Regions from separate parts of the Homo sapiens genome. Here regions 1 and 2 are each reported to be linked to region 3. The links are microRNA targets in miRTarBase. Many come from high-throughput screens and were not tested one by one. Region 3 holds a microRNA gene; each other region holds the end of a gene's coding sequence.
What was found. The annotated mature microRNA hsa-miR-4767 reads CGCGGGCGCUCCUGGCCGCCGCC and lies in region 3 at 1,967-1,989, shown strand. An mRNA with a match to its seed (bases 2 to 7 or 8) in the 3' UTR can be bound and repressed. Matches are read on the target gene's strand: a 7mer-m8 pairs with bases 2 to 8, a 7mer-A1 pairs with bases 2 to 7 and ends in A, and an 8mer does both.

Region 1: miRTarBase lists CPLX1 as a target of hsa-miR-4767. Seed matches in the 3' UTR shown: 7mer-m8 at 3,459-3,465 and 7mer-A1 at 3,239-3,245.
Region 2: miRTarBase lists YIF1B as a target of hsa-miR-4767. Seed matches in the 3' UTR shown: 7mer-m8 at 3,312-3,318.

What each region holds. Positions count from the first base shown.
Region 1 is chr4:782,904-786,996 of GRCh38, forward strand. It overlaps CPLX1 (complexin 1), which reads right to left. Exons shown (of 4, transcript NM_006651.4): 4 at 2,054-3,795. The coding sequence ends at 3,598. Among named protein-coding and RNA genes, the nearest start is that of PCGF3-AS1, 3.1 kb to the left of the region's middle. RefSeq lists enhancers at 1-213, 2,208-3,079.
Region 2 is chr19:38,302,031-38,306,123 of GRCh38, forward strand. YIF1B (Yip1 interacting factor homolog B, membrane trafficking protein) reads right to left here. Exons shown (of 8, transcript NM_001039672.3): 8 at 1,528-3,477. The coding sequence ends at 3,322. It overlaps C19orf33 (chromosome 19 open reading frame 33), which reads left to right and starts at 2,221. Exons shown (of 4, transcript NM_033520.3): 1 at 2,221-2,253; 2 at 2,345-2,460; 3 at 2,594-2,656; 4 at 2,815-2,976. The coding sequence starts at 2,232. The coding sequence ends at 2,934. RefSeq lists enhancers at 1,343-2,080, 2,081-2,818, 2,819-3,556.
Region 3 is chrX:7,145,903-7,150,065 of GRCh38, forward strand. MIR4767 (microRNA 4767) reads left to right here and starts at 1,958; the gene lies at 1,958-2,035. PUDP (pseudouridine 5'-phosphatase) reads right to left here and starts at 2,251. Exons shown (of 4, transcript NM_012080.5): 1 at 2,151-2,251. The coding sequence starts at 2,211. It overlaps STS (steroid sulfatase), which reads left to right and starts at 1,810. Exons shown (of 11, transcript NM_001320752.2): 1 at 1,810-2,181. RefSeq lists a silencer at 1,771-2,490 and an enhancer at 2,681-2,730.

The DNA.
Region 1 (4,093 bases), not on the chromosome of region 3:
ACAAAAAATTAGCCGGGCGTGGTGGCGGGTGCCTGTAGTCCCAGCTACTCGGGAGGCTGAGGCAGGAGAATGGTGTGAACTTGGGAGCGGAGCTTGCAGTGAGCCGAGATCGCACCACTGCACTCCATCCTGGGGGACAGAGAGAGACTCTGTCTCAAAAAAAAAAGACTCCAAGGGAAAGCTGCCTGGGTCGTGACCTGGCACGTCCAAGTCGCTGCTTAGGCTTGCAAGGGGGTCCAGACCAGGCTGTGGATGGGAAATGGGAGGCTGGGGGAGGATGGAGGCTGAGCAGTGGCTGGATGTTGGGGTGCCCTGTTGAGGGGCAGCTGGCAGCAGCCACGGACACAGGGGTGGGTGCAAAGACACTGAGTTTCTGTTCCAGGAGGAAGGGGGGCCAGCTGGCAGAGGAGAGATCACCCTGGGCAATTTGGTGGTGCCTGGGGTGCACACTTCCCCAGAGGCAGCAGGAGGAGGAGCTGGATACACCCTTCCCTGGGCTTGGAGGAGAGCACGTTCCCTCCCAGCTCCCACCTGGCATCCAGGAGGGCCCGGCCTGGGGTCAGGGCACATGGGGCCCTCCTGCCCTGGGACTGGGCAGCTCCCTGGGGCATTCCCAGCCAGCAGCATCAGGAAGGTTACAGGAGACCCAGACATGCTGCTCCCTAGAGAGGGCTCCTGACAAAGATTTTTTGTGTGGTCAAACTTTAGTTAACTTCCTGAATCTTCTGGTAGGCCCATTGGCCCACTTCCTTGTAAAATGCAGTTTTAGCAAAGAATCTGGCTAAGTCAGTTTAGCAACAAACCTTCATCCTGGAGATCTGATTGGGGTCCTCATGCTTCACCACCCTATGGGTCTGTCTGATTGCCCTGCCTGTCTCCAGCTAGAATCCAGTTAGATGGGTTTCATCAGAATCCCCCAACCCCTGATGTTCCTCAGTCATTTTCCATCCACTGAGCCCACCCTGCTCCTTGGCACCCATGGCAAGCCCTGTTGCATGGTCCCTGTACCTGTAGTGCTGGTCCTGAATAAAGCCTTCCTCACTCAGCTGTAACAAGTGTCACGGGACCATCTTTTCTTTTCTTTTTTCTTTTTTTTTTTTTGAGAGGGAGTCTCGCTCTGTCGCCCAGGCTGGAGTGCAGTGGTGTCATCTCGGCTCACTGCAACCTCTGACTCCCAGGTTCAAGGCGATTCTCCTGCCTCAGCCTCCCGAGTAGCTAGGACTACAGTTGCTTGCCACCTCACCCAGCTTTTTTTTTTTTTTTTTTGTAGTTTTAGTATTAATGGGGTTTCACCTTGTTAGCCAGAATAGTCTCCATCTCCTGACCTCGTGATCCGCTCACCTCGTCCTCCCAAAGTGCTGGGATGACAGGCGTGAGCCACCGCGCCCGGCCTGAACCACCGCACCTGGCCTGAACCACCGCACCTGGCCAGAATCATCTTTTAACAGCTTCCAAACTTGGAGGTCAAACAAGGACTTTCTGGGGAAGCAAGTGGCAGGCAGCAGCTAGGCGTGGGCTGCGCATCCAGCGGATTGAGTGTGGGCGGGACCGCCAGCAACCAGGCAGAGGGGCTGTTCTCTGGGTTGGGGTCAGGAACCTCTTCTGGCCTCAGCCCAGGTTGGCAGACATTTCCCTGCAGGGATCCGGGTCCAGGACTCAGGAGGAGGGACAGTCCCACGGGGGTGCTGGGGGGCAGGAATTCCTGGGTGGGCCGAGGTAAGGGCAGCACAGGGTGACCTGGGGCCCTGGGCCCGGTGGAGCTGAGGAGAGGGACAGGCCTGTGGTCGGGGGTCCTAGGTGGGAGGGAGAGCAGAGGGCAGATGCTTTGCGGGTGGAAGAACCACCCTGGGGGGCGGGAGACCCTGAAGGCGCAGGTTTGTGTTTAGATGGAGGTTGCGCTGGCTGGACGGCCTAGGGAAAATGGGTCTGACTGGATGGAGCTGAGTGAGAATGGTGGGAGGCCCTGCAGCCGCCGTGGAGAGAACATGCGCGGGGGAAAGCCCCGGTCCTCCGGCTGGCGAAATGGACCTCTGGAAGGAATGGCCACACGGTGTGAAATCACTGGTGTTTATTGGCTGTGATTCCATCCGGAGAGAACACACGCAGGGGCCCCGACATGCAGGAGGAGGCGCAGGCGCAGGACAGACGGACAGAGGACACCACGGTCTAAGCTAAGCTCGCGGCCCGGGGCGCCATGCGCTGGGAACGGGGTGCGCAGGTTCTACGAGAGGACGCCCTGTCTGCTCAGAGCTGGCTTTGTAAGGTGTGAAAACAGGAGTTTTTAAAAGACACGACCCGGGAGAAGTCAGTGAGAGGGCACAGGGCGAGCAGGACGGACAGCGACGTCCCCGCGGGCCGCGTCGCTGGGGCGCAGAGGGGCGCGGTGGTCTCTGCCCGGAGGGGCGTCGGTCGTTAGTATTGCAGTCTAACGTTATGGCTTCTCTAAAGCTATGTAAGGTCATGAAGGTCAATGCCAAGCCACGCCCTGGCCCGAAACACGTGGAGACTTGATGCATTTTTGATGTGGACGAAAGGGCCCGGGGGCGAGGCGGCGCCTGTCAAGATAAAACTCATTAAATGCAAAGACCTCATTTACCTGAGATTCAACAAATTGTGATGCAAATTAAACATGAATGGAGGAGAAACAGGGGCTCGGATGCCGCCCCGCAGGGCCACCAGGTGGATTAGGCCACACACGCGCCAGCTGCGCGCAGGGAACCCCGCAGGCCCCACCCGAGGAGCTGCCCACGGAGGAGGTGCTGGGCAGGGGCGCAGGGTCTCCAGCGTCCGGTGCCTCGGGCCTCTGCGGCTCCTGTGGAGGGTGCAGTGTTCAATGGCCGAGGGCAGGGGTCCTCCCCAGGGAGAAGCAGCAGCCGCGTGGGCGGAGAGGCTAGGAGGCCGGGCGGGGGGCGAGGACTTGGGAAGAGCGGGGTGACGGGGGTGGGGGCTGGGCGTCCCCCAAACCTATTGCTTTGTTTCCTTTAGTTTAGAAGTGAACACGGCCGTGGCGTTCGTAAGAAGCAAAACCTTCCAGAGAGGAGAGGAAAGGACGCGGACAGAGACGGATGGACAGGGGCGCGAGGGGGCCAGGCCGGGGGGCGGAGAGCGGCCGCGTGCGGACGCAAATACTCACGGCGGAGCGATCCGAACCCCGGAGTCCGCGTGCAGGAGGGGGACCCAGGCCCCGCCGCCCTCGCCCCGCCCGCAGCCCCCCGTCTGCTATGGCTGTGCTCCTGAGTGCGGGCCCGACAGGCGCCCACCGCCGCGAACGCGCGCACAGGGGTGGTCGCGGGGCTGCCCTTCGGCGGCCCTGGCCTCGGGCGCTGCTGGGTGGGCGGTAAACAGCAAGAGAAAGGGGCGTCCCAGGCGATGGGGCTCCAGCCACCCGCGGGCAGAGGAGCACGGGGCGGACTGGGGGGGTCCTGGGGGCGCGCGCCCCTTGCCGGGTGAGGGAGGCGGCGGGCGCGGGCAGGGCGGGCCTGGGGCTATGGCTTATATCGGCGTGGGGGCTGCGCTCTGCTCGTCCCTCAGGGGCCTCCGCGGAGGATCTGTAGGGGGAGGGGCGGGGGCTCCGCGGGGCCGCTGTCCCGCGCGCGGCTACTTCTTGAGCATGTCCTGCAGCGGCCCGGGCAGGTACTTGATGACGGTGTCCAGGATGCTCTCGTCCTCCTCCTCCACCTCGTCCCCGCAGCCCGGCGGGATGGCCTTCTTGGGCCGCGTCAAGCTCCCCTCGGAGTTGGCCTCCATGGCGGCCTGGGCCTCGGCCTCGCGCTCCTCCTTCTTCTTGATGCCGTACTGCGGGGGAGGCGGGGGTCAGGGCGGGGGTCCCGGCGGCTCCCGGGCGGGCCGCAGCCTCCCTGCGCCAGGGACTGGCCCAGGAACCCCCGAAGGCGTGGGTGCGGCCCCCTACCCCACCAGGCACACAAGGACCCCAGAAGGAGAAGAGACCCCACCCCGGGGGGTCCCTGGAGGAATGGGAAGCCCCCACGGAGAATGGGGGCCAGGAGCTGACATGGGGGGGAGCAGGGAGGGGGAGGCTCCCATCTTCCTTGAGAGGAGAGAGGGCTGTGGCCCCACCTCTGGCTCCAAACCC
Region 2 (4,093 bases), not on the chromosome of region 3:
TTTTTTAACCTCTGTACCCCTAGCTTTTTTTTTTTTTTTTTTTTTTTTTGAGATGGATTCTTGCTCTGTCGCCCAGGCTGGAGTGCAGCAGTGTGATCTTGGCTCACTGCAACCTCCACCCCCCGGGTTCAAGCAATTCTCCTGCCTCAGCCTCCCAAGTAGCTGGGATTACAGGCGTACGCCACCATGCCTGGCTAATTTTTGTATTTTTTTTAGTAGAGACGGGGTTTGACCATGTTGGCTAGGCTGGTCTCAAACTCCTAACCTCAGGTGATCCGCCTGCCTCAGCCTCCCAAAGTGCTGGGAATTACAGGTGTGAGCCACTGTGCTCAGCCTGTGTGTTTTGAGACAGGGTCTTGCTTCGTCACCCAGGCTGGAGTGCAGTGGCTCAATCACAGCTTACTGCAGCCTGGACTTCCCAGGCTCAAGTGATCCTCCCGCCTCAGCCTCTCAAGTAGCTGGAACTACAGGCGAGTGCCACCATGCCTGGCTAAGTTTTAATTTTATGTAGAGATGGTCTCAGTATGTTGCCCAGGCTGATTTCAAACTCTTGGGCCCAAGTGATCCTCCTGCCTTGCTTCCCTCCCAAAGTGCTAGGATTACAGGCATGAACCACTTCACCTGGCCCATGCTATATGTTTGCCCCTCGTCTTCTTACCTACTCCCTCAGTTTTCTCATCTGTGAAGCAGGGGTTGGAACAGTAGGGGTTGAATGTTTGTGTCTTCCCCAAACTCCTGTGCTGAAGCTGAGTGATGGTATTTGGAGGTAGGACCTCTGGGAGGTCATCAGGTGATGTGGGTGGAGCCCTTATTAATGGGATTTGTGCCCTTATAGAAAGGGACACAACATGAGATGATCTTGCTCTGGGCCATGCCGGGAGGAAGGGAGAAGGTGGCTGTCAACGAGCCAGGAAGCGGCACTCCTGACACTGGATCTACCAACACCCCTATCTCAGACTTCCAGCCTCCAGGACCGTGAGAACTGTTTCCTGTTGAAGCCACCCTCTCTATATTTGTTACAGCAGCCCACACTGATTAAGACACTTTTTTTTTTTTTTTTTTTTTTTTTTTTTTTGAGATGGAGCCTCGCTCCATCACCCAGGCTGGAGTGCAATGGCGCAATCTCGGCTCACTGCAACCTCTGCCTCCCGGGTTCAAGTGATTATCCTGGGTCAGCCTCCCAAGTAGCTGGGATTGCAGGCACCTGCCACCATGGCTGGCTAAATTTTGTATTTTTAGTAGAGACAGGGTTTCACCATGTTGGCCAGGCTGGTCTCCAACTCCTGACCTCAGGTGATCCACCTGCCTCGGCCTCCCAAAGTGCTGGGCGTGAGCCACCATGCCCGGCCTGACACTTATCTTTTATATCTATATATTTTTTTCTTTGTTGAGACGGAGTCTCACTGTGTCGCCCAGGCTGGAGTGCAGTGGTGTGATCTTGGCTCACCGAAACCTCTGCCTCCCAGGTTCAAGTGATTCTCGTGCCTCAGCCTCCGGAGCAGCTGGGATTACAGGCGTGAGCCACCATGACTGGCCTAAAACACCTACCTTTTATTTTTTAAAAAACCAACACATTATCAGTACTTCATGCCAGACACCATTCTAGGAAATTAACTCCTCTGACTTTCACATCAATCCCATGGGTAGCTGTTATTTACAGATGAGGAAACTGAGGCACAGAGGTAAAACAACTTTGCTGAGGTCACCTTGCTGCTAAGTGACACAGCTGGCATCTAGTGCAGCAGGCTGGCTCCAAGTCTATGCCCCTCACCCCTCAGACGCTGCTCACCAAGCCGGAGGGGCTGTGGGAGCGAGTTAGAACACGGGACGCCCCTGGCAGCAGCGCCCTGCGTGTTAAAGCGCCGCGGAGGAAGCTGTATTGTCGCGGTACGCAGGAAGGCAGGGGCAGCACCTCCCTCTTCAAGAACGAGCATCTGAGCTTTTGGGGGAAACCTGTAGCTCCCCGAATGCCATCCACAGAGCCCCCCTCAGTCGGCCTCCCCTGAGGCACCAAGGCTGGCGGAAGCAGTCACCTGTCCATCTCCCCCACTTCTCACAGAGGAAATCCTGGGTGGTGCCGGGCAATGAGTCAGGGCTGAGGACCAGGACAGAGGTTGGGTGGGGCGTCTCAGCATTCCTCCAACGGGCAGGTCTCAGCGCTCCTCCCCCTGCTCCGCTCCTCTGCAGGGCCCAGGCGCCCTTGGCCTTAGGACCCAACTTCTCTTACCGCCATGGAGTTCGACCTGGGAGCAGGTGAGCTCCTGGGGAGTGTGGACTGGAGGTGCAGGGGGCCGGACTCAAGCCCAGAAGCTGCCTGCACCAACCACCCAACTTCTCTCCACAGCCCTGGAGCCCACCTCCCAGAAGCCCGGTGTGGGGGCGGGCCACGGGGGAGATCCCAAGCTCAGTCCCCACAAAGTTCAGGGCCGGTCGGAGGCAGGGGCAGGTCCGGGTCCAAAGGTAAGTCGCCTCATCACCGGCTGCGGAGGGGCGGGAAGGCTGGGGTTGCCCCTGACCCCAGGGTCCTGCCTTAGGCCTCCAACTTCAGGGGGCTGGGTAAGGGGCGCCGCCTCACTGCCGCACCTCCATCCAGCAAGGACACCACAGCTCTTCCGACTCCAGCAGCAGCTCCAGCGATTCGGACACGGATGTGAAGGTAAGGGGCTCTCGCCAGCGTCCCCAAGCACGTGCCCTGCACCCCAGAGAGGCGTCCCCGCACTGGGGCTGGCGGGGAGGGTGCGGGGAGTGGTCCCCCTGTCTCGCTTCCAGCCCAGAACCATCTCTTCTCTCCCATCCCTGCCCTCGGCCCCACAGTCCCACGCTGCTGGCTCCAAGCAGCACGAGAGCATCCCGGGCAAGGCCAAGAAGCCCAAAGTGAAGAAGAAGGAGAAGGGCAAGAAGGAGAAGGGCAAGAAGAAGGAGGCTCCCCACTGAAGGGCCCTGGACAGGGCTCATTAAACCTTCCTCTCTGCCTTCTGCGACTGGTCAGCGTGGTGCCTACTCTGGCCCGTCCCCAGCTCCCTGCCCCCTGCCCAGCGCTGGGCCCGCCCATTCGTGCGCGAGGCCAAGGAGAGGCTGTCCACGCCATGCCCATCAGGGTTTATTGTTTCTGTAACAGCGGCCACGCCCTGGGGCGGTGGCCTGTGCAGCTGGAGATCTCTCAGCACCTTGGGTTGGGGGCGGGGCTGGGCGGGACATGGGATGGAGGCGGTGCCTGTGGCCAGACAGGGTGGACCTTGGGGCCTGCAGGCAGGAGATGAGTTCGGCGGCCACAGTGGCCCCCAGCAGCAGCAGCAGCAGCGGGAGGTTCAGCGGGCGCGCTCACCGCACCAGGTGGAAGGTGAGCCAGTACATGAGCATAGGCTGCGCCGCCGCCACCGCCATGGTCAGGTACATGCGCAGCTGGTTCCGGGCCCCACGCACCGGGACCCCCTCAGCTGCTGCGTCTGCCAAGATCTTCAGCCGCAGCGTCCGGATCTGGGTGGGAAAGAGAGAGAGGAACCAAGGGATTTACCCTTGAGCCCTCTGGGCCAGAGTGAGAGCCCGGACATACTTCCAGCCTCTGCCTAGAAGCCCCAGGCAGCTGGGGACAAGTCCCTGGCCCTCTGCAGCCTCAGGTTTCTGCTCCCGGGGCCTCAGTTTCCCCAAACCTCCTAACATGGTGAGGATTTGCTTCTCCCCGGGCCCTGTGGGCAAAATCTGAGAAGGTTCCATACTCAAATGCCAGGCAAGGTCTTGGAGCGGGTGAAGGGGGACTTCCCGGTGGACACCCGGCCTGAGGGGGTGGGAGACGTGGCCCAGGATGCTGCCCCCCCTTATGCTGGCCACACGGCAATTTCTGAAGACACGCCAGAAATGCTATCTTTATTTTTATTAAAGGACAGGGTCTCTGGCCTGGTGCGTTGGCTCACGCCTGTAATCCCAGCACTTTGGGAAGCCAAGGCGGGCGGATCACGAGGTCAGGAGATTGAGACCATCCTGGCCAACACGATGAAACCCCGTCTCTACTAAAAATACAAAAATTAGCTGGGCGTGGTGGTGAGTGCCTGTAGTCCCTGCTACTCAGGAGGCTGAGGCAGGAGACTTGCTCCTG
Region 3 (4,163 bases):
TATATTGTTATGCAAACAACAGATACACTGAAGTGAGGTGCTAAAGAATGACAGCAGGCATAATCTGGTAGATTAAATTAAAGTGGCACATCTTGGAAAGCTGTGTTTTATATTTACACATTTGGTGAAAGAATGGGATAAACAAAGGTATATTTCCAAGAAAGTTTTGCAAGGCCTTACCACCTCAAAGAAGAGGTAGGGCAGGAAAGGAGGAAATGGGCAGAAAATGAGGGGGGGGAATAAAAAGAAGCAGGGCTTATTTTTCCAAATAGCACTAATTCTTGGTTATCTGACTAGATCAGAGGATTGGGTAACAATGTGAGGTCAATGCTTGTAATGCCATTTAAGTCACATTCATCACTTCAGGGCATGGCTATGTGTGAATCTAGAATCAGAATTAGGCACCAAGCTCATTTAGAAGTTTAATAAATTTAATTTTAATGAGACATCTTGTTTGGTATTAAAATTCATGAGACTCCCAGAACAGGTTCTCTGGACCTTTATTAGAGGATAAGAAATTTATTTGACAATTTAACTTTTTGACCACCGGAGTAGGAAAATTCATGTCTACAAACTATACCTATGTATCCCACAAGCTTTCTGAAATTGAGTCATTTCAAATTTAGTAGCTGCATACACCGTTGGCTCCAATTAGTGACCTCTACGGGGATTTTTTTTTTCCTTTGGAATTCATCAGTTTACACCTCTGTGTTCATAAAATGAAGAGAATGGTTTCTGCATGCCTTTTTAAAAGGAAACACTGCTAGGGAATTACCCAGCAATATGATGAGCAGAAACAAGGTCACATTCACAATTTAAGATGAGCTCAACATCATTTATATTTAGAACTGGATCAATCCAGAATCGTTTCTCAGCTTGGCTTATTAGCTGTGTGACCTTGGGCAAGTAGCTTTACCTCTCTGAGCTGCAGGGTTTTTTTTTTTTTTTTTTTTTTAATTAGTGACATGCAAATACTTCCTCCTAACTTGCAGGGTTTTGAAATGAAGGAATGATATACGTAACCAAGCAGGTCAGCTGTCTACAAAGAGTATGCAGACATGTTTATAGATATATGAAGCCTCCTGGTGATTATGTGTCATAGTGTTAACTGTGTCAAGGCTTTCGGTAGAGCTCAGCATAGTTCTGTCTTGAGTTAAAAACAGGGTTTTATTCTTTGAATTCTACTTGAATTCCTCTTGGCTGGTGAAGTTCACATGTGCTAAGACTGACTACCTTAGTACACTGCCAAGGGTTTCTTAATGCCTCGGATTGATAGAGCAGCTGTTCTCAAACGTTCACGCGCTTAAAATGCAGATTCTGATTGGGCAGGGGTAGGGTGGGGCCCCAGCTTCTACATTTACAAGTAGCCCACAGGTGATGTCCCCGGTGCTGGTCACCCTAGGCAGCCAGGCCACTTGACGGACCTTCTGTGCCTCTACACTGTTGACGGCGCGGGATAATTCCTTATGGTTGCATAGGGCACTCCTGTGCACTGCGGGAAGTTTAACAGTATCACTGGTCTGGACTCCACTAGATGCCAGTGACCCCATCACTCCTCGCCAGCTGTGACAGCCAAAATGTCTCCTGACATCGCCATTGCCAGATGCCCTCAGGGCTGCAAAACCGCCAGGTAGAGAACCGCTACCATGCAGGATGCTACCATCAAAGTGCGCCCACAGCAGCAACCTTGGAGCAGGCAGGCAAGTATCCTCCAGGCTACTTTGCAGACGGGGAAGCTGAGGCTGGGCACCGCTCAAGGTCGCACGCATGCGTAACCGAAAAGAGAGCGCGGAGGTCCCGCCGCGCCTCGCTCTGAGGAGAGGACGCGGAGCCGCGCGCCCGCCCGGTGGACCCCAGGGACTGCTCCCACGTGCTCCGGCCCCACGCGCGGGCCGCCGACCGGAAGCGGGTGCTGGGGCCGCGTAGACGCCGCGGCCACGCGCGCCCGCCAGCCCGGACATGGGCCCGCGGGCGCTCCTGGCCGCCGCCCGACTTCGGGGCCAGCCGGGGGCAGAGCGCGCGGGAGCCCGAGCGTCCCTGCATGAACACCGCCCCGCCGCGGCCCCCAGGCCGTGACGTACCCCGCGCCGACCGTCCCCACGCCCACACAAGACCGCCCTTACTGGAGGCGGCGGCTGCACACTACCCACCCAGAAGAAGTCCGTCCATGTCAAAGATGAGGTGGGTGACGGGCTGCGGGGGCGCCGCCATGGTGGCGCCTTCTGGGTCTGGGTGGGGGCGAGGAGGAAGTGCGCGCGCACCCGCCCGCCCCGCGCACGCGCACTGAGGACCTTCTCGCGCGCCCGGGGTCGCTCTGCGCACGCGCCTTCCGCGGCCCCTCGCCCGGCTCCGAGCCCGCGCGTCCTGGGCTGCCTAGTGGCGCTCCGCGCACGCGCACCTTGGGCTTTCGCCGCAGCTGTAGCTGCAGACCCGGGATGCGGCGCGGGCCGGCGCTGTATGTTTACCCGCATCAATTCCTCCTCACTTCACACCCGGAATCGGGCCAAGCTACTCAGCCAGCGGCCGCGCAGAGCCGAGGCCCTCGTCTGGGGACAAATTCAGTGCTTGAGTTTGGATCAGGGGTGTGAATGAGGAAGGAGGGACAGTACAAGGGGCTGTAGAGTGGGGAAAGGGGATTGAAGATGCTCAGGGTGGTATCACTTCTAGCCATCAGGTTGCAGACAAATGGCCTTGGTCAGGAGGTCCCTGGGTGGGTTCGCCCGAGCCCCCAGTCCCTGGACCGTGGGTGGGTTTTTCTCAGTTTCGCTTGCCCGCCTCCTTGCGGTCCTGGACCGCGACTTGAACCGGCAGCCGCGCATGCGCAGTGTGCGGAGAGGCTGCACAACCTCCGTGCCTGCATCTCTGAGCATCCCAGGCTGGTGCATTGTCCCAGAGCAAAGCCAAGCTGCTCAAGGAGGATGCTGAAATAATACTAACAGTCAACATGTCTTGCTGGTTGTGCCTTCTTAGGTATCATCTGTCTTTTGGGCTGCTCTGAGTTTTCTTTCTTTTTTAACTTTTCAAATGCCACCTAAACAGCTTTCTTTTTTTTTTTTCCCGTTTGCCATCGTCAAAAAAATACTTTTTTGTCCCTGTTTCTATTTCGTGTTCGTTTATGTGGTATATTCACGTTTAAGGAAAAGGATTGGACCTTTTGAGAAGCGGAAATAGGAGAATTTCAAGACTTTAAAAACGTGAGGGTGTGCTGGGCGCAGTGGCCCACACCTGTAATCCCAGTACTTAGGGAGGCAGAAGTGGGAGTTGGGGGAATAGTTTGAGCCCAGAAGTTTAAGAACTGCCTGGGCAATATAGCGAGACCCTGTTCTCCACAAAAGGGGAAAAAGACAAAAAAAAAAAGGTGTAAACATGAGAGTGTATTTCTAGTTTAGTGCAGACATAGTGGACAGGGGCATGCCTGGATTCAGCAAGAATTATTATCTATGATAGACAAAGTGCACCTGTGTCTGTTTCCTCCTGGGTAAAATGGAGGTGATAAAGGAGGTGAGGCAGGCCAAGCCCTTAGTACCAGTGCATAATATATAGTCAATAAAATTATGTGTTCTTAGAGGTGGTACTATAAGAGAGCTTCCCCCATTTAATGCAATCGTGATTTCCCTTTGAGGACACGGGATTTCAGAGAAGGCAATTTATGAGCAAATTAGGTAGGGACTTGCGCCTCAAATACAGTCGTTCGTGGTTTCTGTATTAGTTTACTACAGCTGCCATAGTAATATACCACAGACTAAGTAACCTAAACAGCAGATGTGTATTGTGTCACAGATCTGGAGGCCAGAAGTCCTAGATCAAGATGTCAGCAGTCTTAATTCCTTCTGAGGGCTGTGAGGAAAGGACCTATTCCAGGTCTTTCTCCTCAGCTTGAACCTGCTTTCCTTTCCCTGTATCTTGTCCTATCGTCTTCCCTCTGTGTGTGTCTCTGTGTCCAAATTTTCTCCTTTTATAAGAACACGATTCTTATTGGACTAAGGACCACCCTAATAACTACATTTTAATTTGATTACCTCTGACAAAATCCTGTTTCCAAATAAGGTCACATTCTGAGGTAGCGGGGATGAGGACTCCAACATATATTTTTGGGAACACAATTCCATAATAGATGCATTGCACACACATAGCTGTGGTACCTACAGTAAGTATGACAGTAT